Linked DNA regions of Homo sapiens. The protein of the gene in region 1 binds, or shares a complex with, the protein of each later gene. Each region holds a gene or a part of one and is shown in the gene's direction. Other genes may lie near its edges.

Region 1 (7,142 bases):
TTTCAAATTTTAAAATTATTGTTGGCTGGAAAAATTATAAGGATGATTGTAATCATGGTTATTTGTTTATTCTGTATATGTTCTACATGCCTATTATGTGCCTTATATAGTACTAAGGACTGAGCATATGGTTGTGAACAAAATAAGAAGTTAACTGCTGGATGGAGCTTATAGTCTTGGGAAATATACAGAAAGATTACTAGTAACTGAGGTGGAGGGTGGGTGGGGATTTGAGGAATAGTGACGAAAGGGTGTTATAGAAGTAATTTTTGACAAAGCTGAAGGCTAAAATATGAATGTATTGTTGAAGAACAAAATACATTGAGATTCCTGAGAAGGTAGGAATGTGATACAAATGGATCAGCCTTTGAAAGGAGGAATACCCTTTTCCTTTGTGTTAGGAGAGGAGGATGAGTGGATGAGCGTGGGAAGAGTGGATGTGTATAGAGGCTTTTATGTTTGTAGGCATAATGCTTGGAAGTTGAGGGGTTGGTGATGACATCTTCTGTTAAAAAGAGTGGGAAATGGTGTGGTCACATTTTAAGGAAATTAGGTAAAATTTGAAATATATTGGAGACAGGACTGGAGAGTTGGGGATCTGGAGTCAGACAGATTTGAGTTCTAGTCCTGATTCTTCTACTCGTTAACTCTCTGAACTTGGATGACCTATTGTTTTTGATTGTATATCCAGCTCCTGGGAAAATGCCAAGCACTTTCAATAAATACTAAATGAATTATGGAGTTGGATCAGTTCTGTGTTAGTGTTTAGCTAGGTAGCTGCTGTAGAATAGAAGGGTAGCACAGTTGAAGATATTGGTAGGAAAGTGGTTGAAGTGATGATTATGAAGTCTTAACTGAATAGATAAAATCAAGATTGGGGTTGGGTGGGCAGAAGGGTAGGGATATGGAGGGAGAAGATGAGGGGTTAGAGTGTCCTGTGAGGTCGAAGGACAGGCATAGTGGGAATAATTGAAAGAATGTTCTGGTTGGACAAGGATCTGATGTGGGTGTGGGAGTGAGAGACTATAGTGAATTCAAGAAAAAAATAGACTAGAACAAAAGTTATGTGGAGATTGCTTAGTGGGCATTTGATAGACATCTGTGGGCCACATGCTTAAATTCCCAGTGCATTTTGCGGAGTTACTGGAAGGTTGGTGGCTTGTTTCTACCATGAGTAGGTAAAGATGGAGAGCAGGATATTTTGTGAGAAAGCAGCTGAAGTTTCTATAGGATGATGGAGGAATGATAGGAATGATCACCTGAAGTTGCAGGGTGGGGTAAACCTAGAAGCACCAACACCTTCTTCTGACCCTCATGTATTTGGAATCTGAAAGAATGAGCACCTTCCAATTGAAAGAGTTCCAAGGGCATTAGTATACTAAAGGATCCAAATTGCAGCTAAGCCAAGGAGATGGAAAGGAGGATTCAGTAAAGAATCTGAGGATGTGAAATATTAATTTATCTTGGAAGAGAATTTTAGAGAGCACAATGGAATGCTTTTTGGAGGAGAGAAAGAGTAAGAACAATTTGGTTAAGGTAGAGGAATAACAGAACTATAAGGTGAAGAAATGAATGTGAGACACATTAGATGACCAAATGATTTGATGTTCTTGGCCATGACCTGAATTAACAAGACTGTGAGGTAAAATGGATTTAATCGGCTACAAATCTTAAGATAACCAAAACCTGAGCTGTTTAATATGGTAGCACTAGCACTAACCACTTGTAGCTATTTATATTTACATTGGTTAAAATTAAAATGAAAAATTTAGTTCTTCAGTTGCACTAGCCACACTTCAAATGCCCGAACATAGCTACATGTAGCGAGTGGCTATTGAACTGGACAGCACTGACAGCATGTCCATTATGCTAGAAAGTCCTATGGGACAGCACTGGTCTAAACAGTGCATGGTATGAGAGAAAGGGCAGGTTAAGGCACTCAGCTTCACTGACTGGGGTGGAGATTCTGATGGTTTGTACTCAGGTTCCAGATCCCTGAGGCTCAGGAACCTTTGCAGTTTAGTCTGGTTACCTGTGGCCCAGTGGTTACAACAGAATGATTAACAGTCAATTCTTTGCATCTCTGGGTGGCTCAGGAAAAATTTAAGGAGTTATTAGCTGTGAACTAACCTTAAGTAAGTTAAATTAAAAAAAAAAAAGTTCTTAAGCTAATATGATTTTAAATATCTGCACTGAAGTATAATGCAAATTTAAATTCAGCATAATTATTTGCTTGTTGTTGACTCATTTGAACCTCAAAATATAATGGGATTAATTTATACTTTGGGTTTATTACTTTAAGATGGCTCAGCAGTCTGCAGGTGGACGAGATACTCGGTTTTTACGTAATGAAATTTGCCAACTTGAAAAACAATTAGAACAAAAAGATAGAGAATTGGAGGACATGGAAAAGGAGTTGGAGAAAGAGAAGAAAGTTAATGAGCAAGTAAAGCACTTTTTTTTTCCATGAATCTTCACTGTTCAAGTTACCTGGCTTTTTATTATTATTGGTAACAATATCAATTTTTATATTGTATGTTATATTTGAAAAATGATGTACACTTATCTCTAAGGTTTTATATCACTGTTCATTTTGTCATCACCAATTTTAAAATATAATGGTACTTCTAGTGAATATGACTTGAAGATTAATTCTTTATATTTGGAAGTACATTTTTCTCAGGACATCAAACTTGTTACCTAAAATTAATGCTTTTGTCTGGAAGATTGGTATCAAGTAACTAATAGATTTTCATAAAGAAGTGATCTTTCTAGTGCCATAGTTTATTTTGGGTAAAAGTTATATTTGTTCATTTCAATGTATTTATATGATTAGTAGATTCGCAAATGAATCTTTCGATATATTCAATAATGGTTAATTAAATATCTTGTTTTTGGTTGTACCTTATTTTATGTGAGATATATATATATATGTATAGTTTTTGAAAAGTTGTGTTCATGTCAGCAGTTTATAAATCACATATTTAAAATAACATTTTTAATGCATAGTTTTTATTACCTCGTTATTCCTTGTTATAAACTAATAATTCTTGCAGTGTTCACTTGAATTTAGTTTTAGGAAAAAAGTTTTTTGCAGATCAACTTGTATTTCCTGGAAGAAAATTTCCTATTTTACCTCAGCTTCCTATTTAATGTATTATTTATTTATTTACTTAACATTTATTTGTTTTTTATTTCACCTGAACTGTTAGTAAACTTAGTAAAATTTGGTGCCTACATGTGGTAACTGTCCTGTCCCTTATACTCAGAAACGTTTTCCACCTTTGTGTCCTTTAGGTCATTGTTGTGTTATATTCCATTTATTTTATTTTGTCCATTGTTCTCTCAGAAATTGAGGGTCATACATTTTAAGAAAACAATGATATGCTATTTAAGAGAATGTATCATAAATTGATTTGTAAGGAAAAGTATCCCCATTCTTCATGTATGTATTTTACTCTAAAATGTTGAAGAATCATATAGAAGTTAGCTATGAAAACAATGTGGTAGAGAAAGTATGGATCGATGCCACTTAAATGTTAGGAAGAAGCTCTTAGAGCATTATCTGTTTAGCTAACTGCAAAACATAGCAGACATGTGGATTTTTTAATAGTCATCAAGGATCTAACTTATAATATACACTGGTAGAATTGCTTAGGGGGATGTCTGTGGTTTTCTGGACTTTTGTTCTTCTATATAGACCTGTATCAGTTGACTTATCATTCATACCACACACCCTTAGCTAATCAGAACTACCTTGTCCATTTATATCTTAGACTATTGTCTTTTTTCATAGTCACACACAGAGAAAACTTGAATATATGGCCTGTGTTCCTTTTTGGCTGCTCAATTCCTTGAGATGAAATATGGGTATGGGTTGCTTTGGCAATTACTTCTTTGCCGTTAACCAGTCATTCAGTTTTATTGAGTCTTTACAGCATACCAGAGGCTGCTAGTTACTAGTGATATAGTGGGCAACTATGTTCTGGTTCTCAAGAATATTCATAGTCAATAATAAGCATAACATAGTGATAATATGATACTTAGGGAGATACATAAGGTCATATTCTGGCATACTCTGGAGAGAGATACCGTAATCAGCCTTGAGGTGCAGGATGTGATCTGTAAACTGAGACCTGAAGTATAGTTAGACTGGTAAGAGGAATGAGGATATATATGGTGGTTAATAAAAGAACATTCTGGGTAGAAGATATAGCATTTGCTAAGACCTAGAGGTAAGAGATGTTATGGAGTATTTAGGAAACTACAGTTATTCATTTTGACTGAAATATAAGTGAAAATAGCTTTCATAGAGTCCTTACTATGTGCCAGGCACTTCATATGCATTAATTCATTATTGCTTATTTGATACTTGTCATATGAGATAGTTGTCATTTCTGCCATGATACAGATGAAGAAATGGAGACACAGAAAGAGTAATTGCCCATGGTTGCACAGCTTATAAATGGTAAAGGTAGGATTTGAAAACAGTCTTACTCAAGAGTCTGTGCTATCTTGCCTTCCCAGTTTTATTTTTTATGATCCTCTGGAGAGATAAGCAAGGGCCAGTTCCTAATGAATTTGGTTCTTTTCCTGAAAGGAGCCAGTGAAGAGTTTTGAGCACAGGATATCATGATCAGATCTATACTTTAAAAGTTTACTGTACTTTGTAGAGAGTGGATTGAAAAGGGCCAAGACTAGTAAGGAAACATTTGTGTTAATTCAGGGAAGTGCTAATGATGGCATTTGCCTGAGAAAGACAAGTGTGAGAGAAGTAGATGTAATTGGATGTGGTGAATGTAATTGGTTGTTGGAGGAGAGGGAGGATGGAGAGTCTGCCTAATTTTGTGGGTTGGGCCACTAAATAGGTAGATAGTGCCATTCATTAAGGAGGAACACAAGAGGAATTTGGAAAGCTTGAGATTATTTCAGTTTTGTAGATGTTGAGTTTGAGGTTCTTCTGGGCATATTCAAAAAGGGTATCTGTGGATATGGAATTCACAAGAGACCCTGTACAGATGATGAGGATTTATGAATCATCAATGTAGACATTATTGAAGCCAGAGAAGTGATTGTAAGGCACGTCTCTGAGAAATGTCTAATAAAGCAATGAAATAGGAAGAGTGCTTCAAGGAAAAGCTCAAGAAAGGAGAAACAGAGTGTGATGTTTGAGAAGACAAGGGAAAAAAACATTAATAGCATTAAATGCTTTAGCATTAAGTTCTTGGCTTCTCTTCTTGTAAAAATTTCCCAATTCAGAACACAGTGGGATTATTAACTTTCAATTGATAATAATAATGATAGGCAAACTTCTAAAATTTGTATTGTAGTTTGCATTTTATTATAAACTTTCTTTAAATTTTTATTTTGAAAAATGTCATATCTTCATAAAGATTGTAAGAAACACACTGTTGGTGTTAATGTAAATTAGTTCAACCATTGTGGGAGACAGTGTGGCAATTCCTCGAAGATCTAGAAGCAGAAATACCACTTGACCCAGCAATCCCATTACTGGGTATATACCCAAAAGAATATAAATCATTTTCTTATAAAGATACTTGCACACATATGTTCATTGCAGCACTATTCACAATAGCAAAGACATGGAATCAACCCAAATGCTCATCAATGATAGACTGGATAATGAAAATGTGGAACATATACATCATAGAATACTATGCAGCCATCAAAAGAGAATGAGAGGTCAAGCGTGGTGACTCATGCCTACAGTCCCAGCACTTTGGGAGGCCGAGGCAGGCAGATCACTTGAGGTCAGGAGTTCAAGACCAGCCTGGCCAGTATGGTGAAACCCCATCTCTACAAAAACAAAACAAAACAAACAAAAATTAACTGGTCATGGTACTGTATGCCTGCAGTCCCAGCTACTTGGGAGGCTGAGGCAGGAGAATGACTTGAACCCAGAAGGCAGAGGTTGCAGTGAGCTGAGATCGCACCACTGGACTCTAGCCTTAGCAACAAAACTAGAGTTTGTCTCAAAAAAAAAAAAAAAAAAAAACCGGAACAAGATCATGTCCTTTGCAGGGACATGGGATGGAGGTGGAAGCCATTATCCTCAGCAAACTCACACAGGAACAGAAAACCAAACACTGCATGTTCTCACTTATAAGTGGGAGCTGAACAATGAGAACACATGGACACATGGTGGGGAACAACACACACTGGGACCCGTCAAGGGGTCGGGGTGGGAGAACATCAGGAAGAATAGCTAATGGATGCTGGGCTTAATATCTAGGTTATGGGTTGATCTGTGCAGCAAGCCACCATTGTACACATTTACCTAAGTAACAAACCTGCACATCTTACACATGTACCCCAGAACTTAAAAGTTGATGGGAAAAAGAAAAACAATAACCACCCACATACCCTTCATATAGATTCACCAGTTCTTAATGTTGTGCCAACTTTGCTTTATCTTTTTGTCAGTATTTTTACACACACATGTATTTCTCTGTCTCTTGTTTGTTCAATCACATTTTTTGCTGAGTCATTTAAGAGCTAATTGCAGATATGATACTTTGCACTTAAATATTTCAGCTTGTCTGTTTGAAAAAGAAAGATGTTCTCCTACAATGAACACAATATAATTGTCATGCTCAGGAATTTTAATATTGATTCAACACCATTATCTAGTCCATAATGAGATTTCTTCTAATGGCCCAATAATATCCTTCAGTCTCCCCACCTCCAATATCCAAAGTTCTGTCAAGGATCACATACTACATTTGGTTCTTTATTATAGACTTTTTAAATATCGTTGTATACCATTGTGATTCTATCGTCTCCTTTAATAAAGAGGAGAACCAGAAAAATGAAAGGTCATAAGAGGAATGAGGTTTGGAGAATAGGTGAAAAAAGGCATCATAATGTTTATAATAATGTTTGCCTGTTCAGAGAAACAAGAATCACAGATAAAGTCACTTATATGTAGATAAGAGAATGCTGTATTACTTTTTGCTATTCTATTCACTGATCATTTTTCTAAGAACTCTGTATGCTTCTTGTTTAACTCTTATGTCAGCATGTATGAGAAAACTGAGTTAAAGAGATGTTAAGTAACTCATTCATGCTTTACTAGAAATTGGTTGATGAGGGACATAAACCTAGGCCGGTGTGATTTTAGA
Region 2 (4,315 bases), on another chromosome or scaffold:
TGTCCGCCCCGTCTGGGAAGTGAGGAGCGCCTCTGCCCGGCCGCCCCATCTGGGAGGTGTACCCAACAGCTCCGAAGAGACAGCGACCATTGAGAATGGGCCATGATGACGATGGCGGTTTTGTCAAAAAGAAAAGGGGGAAATGTGGGGAAAAGAAAGAGAGATCAGATTGTTACTGTGTCTGTGTAGAAAGAAGTAGACATAGGAGACTCCATTTTGTTCTGTACTAAGAAAAATTCTTCTGCCTTGGGATGCTGTTAATCTATAACCTTACCCCCAACCCCGTGCTCTCTGAAACATGTGCTGTGTCAACTCAAGGTTAAATGGATTAAGGGCGGTGCAAGATGTGCTTTGTTAAACAGGTGCTTGAAGGCAGCATGCTCCTTAAGAGTCATCACCACTCCCTAATCTCAAGTACCCAGGGACACAAACACTGTGGAAGGCCGCAGGGACCTCTGCCTAGGAGAACCAGAGACCTTTGTTCACGTGTTTATCTGCTGACCTTCTCTCCACTATTATCCTATGACCCTGCCACATCCCCCTCTCCGAGAAACACCCAAGAATGATCAATAAATACAAAAAAAAAAAAGAAAAGAAAAAAGAAACTGTCTTTTTCTGAATGACTTGCTTTCCTCCCAGGCGAGCTTACTATATTTGGTCTTTGGCTTTCAGACTGGTCAAGCCCAGCATTCCAGCAGCTCTCAGGAGTAACACAGACCTGCACCACCAAGTCCCTGGCAATGGTATGGAGAATGAGAGCGGGTATCTGGAAGGGAATGAGATCTGCTCCTGGGATGGCATTTGAGGTTTTATCAGGCCAAGTGCTGTGCGCCCTGGGGAGGATTCCAGAGTTGGGTGACTTGTGTGTGGGTTCTACAGGGCCACCTGGTCCGGAGATCCTGTCTGTCTTTTTGAGCATGGCAGCAGCTTGTATTTGGGTGTCCTTTTGCATCTCAGACTCCTATTTCCCACCTGGGTGATAATTTTTCTTTTTCCCTTGTGAAGATAACCTTGTCATTGGCCACAAGGAGAACAGATTCCAAGGGAGGCCTTGCCCACCCTATGACACTCCTTTTTATAGGACAAGGTGGCTCACTTCTCCTACCCATTCACGTTTGAAGCCTTCTTCCTCCATGAGGATGAATCTTCTGGTGAGTAGCTCAGCAGTTGATCCTGGGCCTTGGTTCCCCTCAAGCAGTGCTGTCTCTTGGTGAAGGCCGCCTGTGACCTGGCCGCTTCTCTCCTTGCTCCCAGATGCACTCCCGGAGTGGCCTGTGCTCTACTGTGAGGTCCTCTCGCTGGACTTCTGGCAGAGGTACCGTGTGGAAGGCTATGGGGCTGTGGTGCTGCCTGCCACTCCAGGTAACCGCTCGTCTCTGCCCTTCTGTGGCCCACATGCCCTAGGCCCTAAGAACAAGACTAACACTCGAATGCTTCTGGTGAGGGGTGGAGATAATTGGGAATTGGAAATGTTTGGCTTGAAAGAGTTCCTGTTCCTCTGAGGACTTTCTGCCCCCCTCCATTAGCGACAATGACGTGGCCTTGGCACTGACTTCCTGACAGTCTCTCCATGTGCTTCATGCTCCTCTGATTGGACTCAGGGTGAGAAGCTGTATGGCAAAATTGGCTCATAGCATATGTGTATTGAATGAATCAGCATTCAGTTTGGAATAAAAGCATCTGTCTTTTACTGTGTGCCAGGCATTGTGCCATACTTCTCACTTAATTCTCCCAGTCACTCTGTGAGGTGCAGGTGGTATTATTTCCATTTTACTAGATGAGGAGAATGAGCTTCAGAGAGGTTAAGAAACCTGTCCTGGGTATGCAGGTAATAACTGGCAGAGCGGAAATTTGAATTTCTCCCTGATTGATTTCCATACAGGTGCTATGGGTAACCATGATAACCTGCACCAGAGGCCAGGTCATCACCAGACCAGGTGTTTTAGCTGAGTCTAGGCCTGTGTCATTGCTGGGGAGTCAGTGAGGGGCCACATGCCCTTTCTGGACCTGGCCCCAGTCTTCTCTTCCCTTGCGCAGGCTCACACACCCTGACAGTCTCCACGTGGAGACCTGTGGAGCTTGGCACGGTGGCTGAGCTGAGGAGGTTTTTCATTGGCGGTTCTCTGGAACTGGAGGACCTCTCCTATGTACGGATACCAGGATCCTTCAAGGTGACTTTTGTCTTTGGAGTGACTTCACGCTGAGAACTTATGGTCCTGTCCTTCTGTAGGAGGTGGGATCTGGGTCAAGACCCCTTAGTTGTGCATTGCTTCAGTATTAACCCCTTCCTTCCTGTGGCTTAAGCTGGAAGTCATGACCACATTTTGAATCAGGTTCCAATATCTACACTGCTATCGTAGGAGGTCTCTGGAAAATAGTATAATTAGAGATTTCCCCTGGTTCCCATCAGAATAACTGGCTCTTTCCCCCATCACTGAAGGCCTCAGTAATCAGATGTGGGGAGGATTCACAGTAAGCATATAAGACCGCCGCTTCTCAAATGAGGTTGGAATGTTCCCTGGTTTAGTTGGGGGAGCCCAATAGCCCAGTATTAGCCTTGAGGTAATAGAGTCTGGGTGATGGAATAAGGTTTCCCCAACAGAACTGCGCTTCCCAAGAATGGGAATAAGAATGGGGGTGAGGCCAGCATGGTGCGGGGGTGTCTAGAGAGAGCAGAAACCTGAGGCTGTCCCAATGGCATGCCACAGGGGGAACGCCTGAGCCGCTTTGGACTCCGCACAGAGACCACAGGCACTGTCACCTTCCGCTTGCACTGTCTGCAGCAGTCCAGGTGAGTGACTTGGCCCTCTGCCTCAGGGCACCTTAGCCCTGAGGGGTGGAGACAGCCGTAACCATGTGGCTGGCCTCCCTGCAGGGCCTTCATGGAATCGAGCTCCCTTCAGAAAAGGATGCGGAGTGTGTTGGACCGTCTGGAAGGGTTCAGCCAGCAGAGTTCCATTCACAATGTGCTAGGTATGTCCCCTCCCCCAGCTGGCCACCCCAGGTCAGCATGGGCCTGTTTCTCTCTGCAGTGCAGAGAGAAATACCATATGGCAGCCAAATAGCATATCTCCTTTCCTTACAGAGGCCTTCCGTCGAGCCCGGCGCCGCATGCAGGAGGCCCGGGAAAGCCTCCCGCAGGACCTAGTGAGCCCCTCTGGAACCCTGGTCTCCTAGCTCACAGCAGCCCTGGCCCACAGTGCAAGAGGACAAGATGGGGGATATCTGAGGCCAGTGCTCTCCTGCCTCTTCGTCTTTCTGATTAGAGACCACGTTGGTCTGCTGAGAACCAGAAAAGCTGGGAAATTCCCGGCTGGCCCCTCTGCCTAGCCTTCTGCAGGGTCTTCTCCCTACCCTGTGGAAATAAAGCCAGAGACCCTGTGGCCCCCCCTTTATATTTGCAGCCACTGTCAATGGGCATCACAGCAAGGCAGGCTTTTTGATCTGAAGCTGTTTGGGGTGACCCCATAGTGAGTCTGGCCTTGACTCACTTTTCTGGCTTGTCTCACAGTAGCAGGGGATCTGCTGTTCTCCACCCTTTAAAAATGGAGCCTTTCATCTTCCAAGACCAAAGAAGGAAGGAAGGTGGACGGTGAGAGGGTCTTAAATCCCCAGCCTGTGAGTCTCAGCCTCTTTCCAGGGAAGCCTCATTCTACTGCTTGGGGCTTGCTGAGGTTGAGATATGAGTTATTTCTGAGTAAGTGAAGGCTGAAGGCAGTGCTGAGTCCTTTCTGCTAGCTGGGTGGTATCTTTTACTGTGTTTTTTTGTTTGTTTGTTTTTTTGTTTTTTGTTACATAAACCCCTTTTATTTTGACTGATGTTCTGTTGGCTGTTTGTCTGCTCAGGTTGCTGGTATGGCTAGGGTGTTCTTAATGTCGGGGCCCCTACCATGTCTGCCCTTCCCCTTTTCTGCCTTTCCCTACTCCACAGTGTTTCTTTGGGCTCTCCTAATTCAGCCCCCAGGAGAGGCTTAGATGGTTGTGCCAGCTTGCGTGTTAACAGCACTTCTCTTAAACATCTGGAGCAAAGCATGGAACTGAGGCCACGTCTTCCCTAGCCCAACACAGAAACAGCAGCCCCTGCCCTTAGCAGTGCTTTATTGGTAGAAGCAGAGCATGCTGCCTGGCCTCAGGCTCAGAGGAGTATTGTGGGGTGTCTGGAGGCTAGGACCGAGTGGTCTCTTAGTCATGGTGAGGGAGGGGAGGGAGGGCTGGGAAACAGTAGAAAGTGCTGTAAACCCTCCAGCTGACTTTTCTTGCCTGGGGTGCAAGACCACATGGCTTGGCTCCCAAGCCTTTGCACGTGGCGCTGATT
Region 3 (7,000 bases), on another chromosome or scaffold:
TCCCCAGTAGCTGGGACTACAGGCACCCACCACCATGCCCAGCTAATTTTTTGTATTTTTAGTAGAGACGGGTTTCACCGTGTTAGCCAGGATGGTCTTGATCTCCTGACCTCATGATCCGCCTGCCTCGGCCTCCCAAAGTGCTGGGATTACAGGTGTGAGCCACTGTGCCCGGCTGACTCCTGTGTCCTTTCAACATTTCCCACCCCACCATTTTTTTGAGCACTTCCTTACTTGTTCACAGTGTTTTTGAACACCGATGACAGAAATTACATAAATTCTCAATTGTTCTTTTGTTTTTTAGATTGCTTTGGGTGTATTGGGTGGGCTAGCTGTTTTAGCATCTCTTTTGAAGACAGCAGGATGGAAGAGGCGCATTGGGAGTCCCATGATTGATTTACAGGTATAATCTCAGGAGTTTTTTAAGAATATTTTTATCTTTTGACCATTCTGGATCCTTCTCATAAGACACAGCTAGAGAATAAGTAAAAAAGTTGCATTGAATTTTTCTGGGATATGTAATTAGGGTAAGTATTGCTGGGTCATATGGTATATGTGTACCTCATTTTCTTCCCACCATACTGTATGCCAGTCTATATTCCCACCAGCAATGCTCTTCTTATTTCTGCACATACTTGGCAACACTTGATATTTTTCCAACCTTTTCATTTTTTGCCAACCTCATGGCATATAGTAGTATGTCATTGTTGATTTCATTTTCATTTCTCTGTACTCTTCATATACATTTTAATCGTTTGGGTTTCTCCTTCTGTGAACTGCCTGTTTATATCCCTTGCCCATTTCTCTATTATGTTTCCAGTTTTTATTGTTTATTTGAAGAATTTTTTTTTGTATTTTCTAAATAGTAACCCCTTTTTGGTTTCTGATGTTGAAATATATGACCAAATAAATATGTGACCCATCCGTTATTTTTATCCATGTAGTCCTTTGTTTAACAGAAACTTTCAGGTTTGTTTTTGTTTTCATTTTTGTTTTTTTTTGTTGTTGTTTTTTTGAGACGGAGTCTCACTCTGTCGCTGAGGCTGGAGTGCAGAGGCACAATCTTGGTTCACTTGCAACCTCTGCCTCCCGGGTTCAAGCAATTCTCCTGCCTCAGCCTCCTGAGTAGCTGGAATTACAGGCGCACACCACCATGCCTGGCTAATTTTTGTATTTTTAGTAGAGACGGGGTTTCACCATGTTGTTCAGGCTGGTCTTGAACTCCTGGCCTCATGATCCGCCCACCTCAGCCTCCCAAAGTGCTGGGATTACAGGCATGAGCCACCACGCCTGGCCAGAAACTTTTGGTTTTGATATCATCATATCTGAATATTTTTTTTCATGTTATGATACGTGCTTTTGGGATCTTGTTTAGGAAAACCGTCCCTATATCAAGATCACAAAGATAGTCCACATTTTATTCTATTAACTTTATACTTTCACTTCATGGTTAACCTTTTATTTTTATTAAACATTTAAAAAATATTTACCATGTACCAGGCACTTTTTAAAGCTTTATGTATGTAATTTTCTGAATCCGCACAGTAGCTCTTTGAAGTTAGGTTATTATTATTATTTGCGTTTTACACGTGATGAAATTGAGGTAAAGGTTAAATTTTCTACTCACTTGATTTTTGCAACTCAGTAATAGGTATTTCCGTTTTGTTGATGAAGAACATGAGAAAGGTTACATGGTAGCTTTAACCAAAGTATCTTTCTGATTCCAAAGCCAGTGGGCTAAGGAATCAGCAGGGGTACTTGATTTACTACTTGGGATAGTCCAGAAAGGCTTCCCAGAGAAATGAACTTTAAGTGGGATTATCTGTTCATTCTATAATAGTCACTGAGGCTCTATTGTCTAAGTGTCTGGCACTCTACCAGGAGCTGGAGAATGTGTTAGTGAGCAAAGACAGACATAGTCTGTGCTCTCAGAAATCATGAGAACTTACCAGAGAGGGGAAGAGAAGAATATTTGGTAAAACAATGCCCATTTTATTCCAGAAAGTATTTGAGATGAACGTATGGAGTGGTTAGTCATTGACTACATGGCTGGAACTGGCAGATGAGGCTAAAAAGTTAATTTTGGCCCATATTGTGAAAGACCTTGTGGATCAGGAATTTATATTGCAATGAGGAGTTGTTCATTTTTAACAAGGGGAGTGACACAATCCAATTTACATCTTAGAAAACTAACTCTGGTGGTAGTGTGGAGGAGAGATTAGAGGGGAGGATTCCCAACTAAGAGAAAATTAGGAAGCAGTTCAATTTTCTTAGATAGTGAAAGATGAGAAGAGTTGAAAGAAGAGGCTACCAGGAACGGCCAGAAAGGTAAGGAGCCAAAAGGTAGCAAGGAGGAGGAAGCAGGTGGTCTTTATAGCTGGATCATATGGGGATATGTGAAACAAGGCTTCAGGCTTAAGAAATGGAGTGGATGATGTATAAAAGTGGTAGTGTTACTAAAAGTGGTATATACATGGAGTCTTAAACAGCTGTAATTCTTTTTTTTAAATTGCAGACAGTTGTGAAATTCTTGGTGTACTATGCTGGTGATCTGGCCAATGTTTTCTTTATCATCACAGTGGGAACAGGTCTTTACTGGCTTATTTTCTTCAAAGTGAGTGAGTTTCTGAATTTTCCCCAACTGCCAATATCTGAATAGTTGAAAAGCTTTCTTTATAAAGGAACTATTTTTATTTGAGAGAATTTTTGATCAACAGTATTAAGAAAAGTTCCCAACTCCCCATTCCTTGAGTGTGCTGAGCTTATCGATTACATCACTATCTTCCTCTTTTATGCTTTCTTTGGTTTATAAATTGTGCTTAGTAAAAACCTTGTTCAATTGGAAGACTTAGGTGGGAGGATCCTGTGAGTCCAGAATCAAGTCCTGCCCGGGCAGCATACTGAGACCCTCCTTTCCCAAAAAAAAACAAAAACGAAAACAAAAAACAAACAAACAAACAAAAAAAACTGTGTGTGATAATATTTAATCAAGTAATTTTTATTATAGGCACAGAAGTCTGTGTCTGTTTTGCTGCCAATGCCAATTCAGGAAGAACGTTTTGTCACTTATGTTGGATGTGCCTTTGCTCTGAAGGTAAGTTTTAAAGGACAGGTTACCAAATTTAAAAGGCCTGCTAATGAACTAACAAGTCTTTAAAATTAAAATGCTTTCAAAAATCTTTGGCGTGAAATTCACTTTGGTTTTGAAAGAAAGCATTAATTATTTTATGTGGTAAATTTACTTTTATTTATAGTAGATGCTCAGTCTGAAACTCTGCCTTAAATATTTTTTTCAAAGAAGCCATGAATTTGTATGGCTTATTTGATAAAATGATATTTCAGTATATAACTTTCTTTAAAGTCTGATGATACATTCACAATGGGACAAAATGTCTTCAGGCATGAATTTTGTCTCCATTAATCAAGGGTAAAAGGTACCACTCTGGATAAAGTGTTGAGATCTTAAAAGTTGTTTTGTCTGTCTCCAGATTCCTTTGCTCCTTTCTTCCTATGGCCCCCCAATCCCCAACTCAGTGTTCTCCATCAATGTAGGTGAATCTCTTTATATGCCTGTTGGTAGTCCTTATCCTATTTTACTGTGAGTGTTAAGTGTCTGCTTTTTCCACTGACTGGGAGCTTCTTGAGGTGAAGTATCTCATACTTAGATTTTTATCCTTTATTTGATGAATAATGCAGCAACTAGAAAGAATGCCTCAGTTTAAACATATTGCTTGTATAAATAAGAAAGATGTGTTTCAACAGCACATTCTTTAAAAATCAGAAATCTGAATAGCAGAAATAGAAAAAAAAGACAGTAAGAGCATTCGAAAACTTTAATTAGGAAAAACAAACTATAGTTGAAAATATCTTTACTTATAAAGAAGTCAGCTGATCTACAAAACAAAGTGTGCTTCTAGAATCTTTGGGAAAGAGTCAATTATATAAGTCCCTATGTGAGGAGGAGGAAAAATGTCTCCTCTTTTCATATTCCTATTTTAAAGAAAGAAAGAAAAAGGGAAGGTAAATTAAGATGTATATGAAAATTCTGTGAATTTGATGATTCCAGGTTATCTGATGAGCTTCTAATGATTCCTTAGTGGTATTATAACTTCATGTGAATTCACTCATAAAATTATATGTTCTTGTGATAACAGTATGTTTCTTAAAGAGTCAATATTGGTTTTATAAGCAGACTTAACGCTGGTACTTTTTCAGGTGTTTTATTATATGTCATTCTCAGGCACTACAATTTTTGCATAAGCTCATATCCCAGATTACAATAGATGTATTCTTTATTGATTGGGAGCGACCTAAAGGAAAGGTTCTTAAAGCTGTTGAAGGTAACTGAAATAAAAAATATTTGTACCAAAATTCTTTTGCTACCCTTGCAGAGCAAAGGAGGTAAAACTCTTTTACTCATTTTATTTTCCTGACCAGGTGAGGGTGGTGTACGAAGTGCCACTGTTCCTGTAAGCATATGGAGAACATATTTTGTAGCAAATGAATGGAATGAAATTCAGACTGTGAGAAAAATTAATTCACTCTTTCAAGTACTTACTGTCCTCTTCTTTTTGGAGGTATAAACTGTTTGATGTGATTATATGCGACTTACATGTACCTTATAAATATTAAACTAATATAATTCCAACTAAGTTTTCATGACAGTGGAAGATTTCTCTAAAGGTTGAAATATTGTTGTGAAGCCATTAAAAAGGAGTACCTTTATGTTACGTATTTTACCACAATTCTTTTTTTAAGTTTACCATCTTAAGCATTTTTAAGTGTAGAGTTTAATAGTGTTAAGTTGGCCAGGCACAGTGGCTCATGCCTGTAATCCCAACACTTTGGGAGGCTGAGGCAGGCGGATCACCTGAGGTTGGAAGTTCAAGACCAGCCTGGCCAACATGGAGAAACCCCGTCTCTACCAAAAAATACAAAATTAGCTGGGCATGGCGGCACATGCCTATAATCCCAGCTGCTCGGGAGGCTGAGGCAGGAGAATTGCTTGAACCCGGGAGGCGGAGGTTACAGTGAGCCGAGATTGCACCATTGAACTCCAGCCTGGGCAGAAAGAGCAAAACTCCATCTCAGAAAAAAACAAACAAACAAAAAGTAGTGTTACGTACATTCACATTGCCACGCAAAATCATCATCACCATTCATCTTAGAACTCTTCATCTTGCAAAACTGAAACTCTATACCCCTTAAACAACTCTGTACCCATTCCCTGCTACACCTAACCCCAGGCAACCACCATTCTATAATACTTTCTGTCTCTGTGTGTTTGACTGCTCTAGGTGTAAGGAGTAGCTTTAAAACCACTGGTTTGTATCAGAATCCCTTGGGGATCTTTTGTAAAATACCTATGCTCAGGCTCACCCTTAGAGACTATGTGTTGATTTAGTAGCTTTGAGGTAACTCCAGGTATCTATATTTTGAAAAAGCTCCCTACCCCCGATCCATATTCTCCCCTGCATTAGAATCACTATTATAAGTTTGATATTTTTCAACAAATTTGTATTGAACACTTACTGTAGACTATGTTCTGTGCTAAGAGCTGGGGCTACACTGAACAAAACACAACATGTTTGTGATACATATGCAGTTATTTCATGGATTTGGTTGGAATTATTAAAGGAAGTATTCAGTACTGAGTATAAGACTGAACATGGAAACAGTTTATATGGGAATAGGTTTTCTCAGGAATTATCTGCTTAATTAAGATTGAATATAAATCATTAACTCTTAGGTCTGTCTGTCTGCCTTCCCTCTTTTTTCTTCTTTCTTTCCATTCTCTTTCCCCTTTCCCTTCCTTTCCTTTTATAAAACTAGTAGAAGAATGTTTGTATCCCTAGGGCTTTAAAATAATATGAACAAGACTTCCAAAGTTCACTTGAAGTGGTATTTTGGTTTTTCTTAAATGGACAGATAAAAATTACATATGTTTATAGTTTACAATACAGTGTTTTGATATATGTATTCATTGTGGAATGGCTAAATCAAGCTAGTTTATCTGTTACCTCACATCTTTTCTTTTTGTACTAAAGTAGTGTGTGTGTGTGTGTGTGTGTGTGTGTGTGTGTGTGTGTGTTTAAGAGTTTCCTCAGCTTTAAAAGGTGTTATGTGAAAAAGTTTTATGGTCAAGTAAGTTTGGAAAATATTGGATTCAGTATAATCATGTAGCACCTTTTACTGTAAAACTTCTCAGAGCCTTTATTCTACAAGGGTGGGAGGCATGGAGGTGAGTGTAATGGATGGACCAAAAGTATTTAAACATAGATTCTTTTTTCAAGAACTTATGTCCTTTAGAAGACATTTTGTAATATACTGTTTTAAAGTATAAAAATGTTTAGTACAGTGCCTGGCACATGTCAAATACTCATGAAATACTACTTGTTGGTTTCACTCATTGGTAGTTTACTGATGAAAGTTTTATCCTTTTAATTAAATTTTTAGTCTTGTCAGTGTGTATGACAATAAGGTTATATTTGGCCCTTAGTCATATTGAGAAGAATGCCAAATGAGCTAACTAAATATTGTGTAATAAATACTTTGTAGTTAAAATACTATATAATAATTATTTTTATCTAGATTTTCTACTGTTTATACAAACTTAGATATTTTAGTTTTTCAAGGTGAGTAGGGAGAGGTTTTCTGTTTTCAGTCTAGAGTAGTTTTCTTTATCCATGTCCGTTTAAATTACTACTTTTCCTTTTTACTCCAGGTTGTGGGATTCAAGAACTTAGCATTAATGGACTCATCTTCTAGTCTTTCTAGAAACCCACCTAGCTACATAGCTCCTTATAGCTGCATTTTGAGATATGCAGTGTCTGCTGCTCTTTGGCTAGCCATTGGAATTATACAGGTAAGGAATTATACAGGTAATATTACTTCTAAGTAACATTGCTTCTTTATAACTCTGCCTAATTACTGATTATCATCAAATATTGACCACATCCTTCTTTCTGTAGCAGAAAGAAGGTGACAAGAACAATAGCTA

Evidence for each region.
Region 2: CEP290 (region 1) and MKS1 share a complex: the UniProt entries of both Homo sapiens proteins name them as parts of the tectonic-like complex.
Region 3: CEP290 (region 1) and TMEM67 share a complex: the UniProt entries of both Homo sapiens proteins name them as parts of the tectonic-like complex.

What each region holds. Positions count from the first base shown.
Region 1 is NC_000012.12:88,131,947-88,139,088, reverse strand, and holds part of CEP290 (centrosomal protein of 290 kDa), read left to right. Parts: intron 1-2,302; coding exon 2,303-2,446; intron 2,447-7,142. UniProt on the Homo sapiens protein: Involved in early and late steps in cilia formation. Its association with CCP110 is required for inhibition of primary cilia formation by CCP110.
Region 2 is NC_000017.11:58,204,941-58,209,255, reverse strand, and holds the end of MKS1 (tectonic-like complex member MKS1), read left to right. Parts: intron 1-672; coding exon 673-743; exon of another isoform or gene 744-748; intron 749-1,081; coding exon 1,082-1,151; intron 1,152-1,254; coding exon 1,255-1,362; intron 1,363-1,526; coding exon of another isoform or gene 1,527-1,552; exon of another isoform or gene 1,553-1,695; intron 1,696-2,037; coding exon 2,038-2,171; intron 2,172-2,708; coding exon 2,709-2,791; intron 2,792-2,875; coding exon 2,876-2,973; intron 2,974-3,085; coding exon 3,086-3,177; coding exon of another isoform or gene 3,178-3,266; 3' UTR 3,267-3,815; downstream 3,816-4,315. UniProt on the Homo sapiens protein: Component of the tectonic-like complex, a complex localized at the transition zone of primary cilia and acting as a barrier that prevents diffusion of transmembrane proteins between the cilia and plasma membranes.
Region 3 is NC_000008.11:93,792,894-93,799,893, forward strand, and holds part of TMEM67 (meckelin isoform 1 precursor), read left to right. Parts: intron 1-304; coding exon 305-403; intron 404-2,515; coding exon 2,516-2,614; intron 2,615-3,007; coding exon 3,008-3,094; intron 3,095-4,240; coding exon 4,241-4,340; intron 4,341-4,437; coding exon 4,438-4,577; intron 4,578-6,724; coding exon 6,725-6,865; intron 6,866-7,000. UniProt on the Homo sapiens protein: Required for ciliary structure and function. Part of the tectonic-like complex which is required for tissue-specific ciliogenesis and may regulate ciliary membrane composition.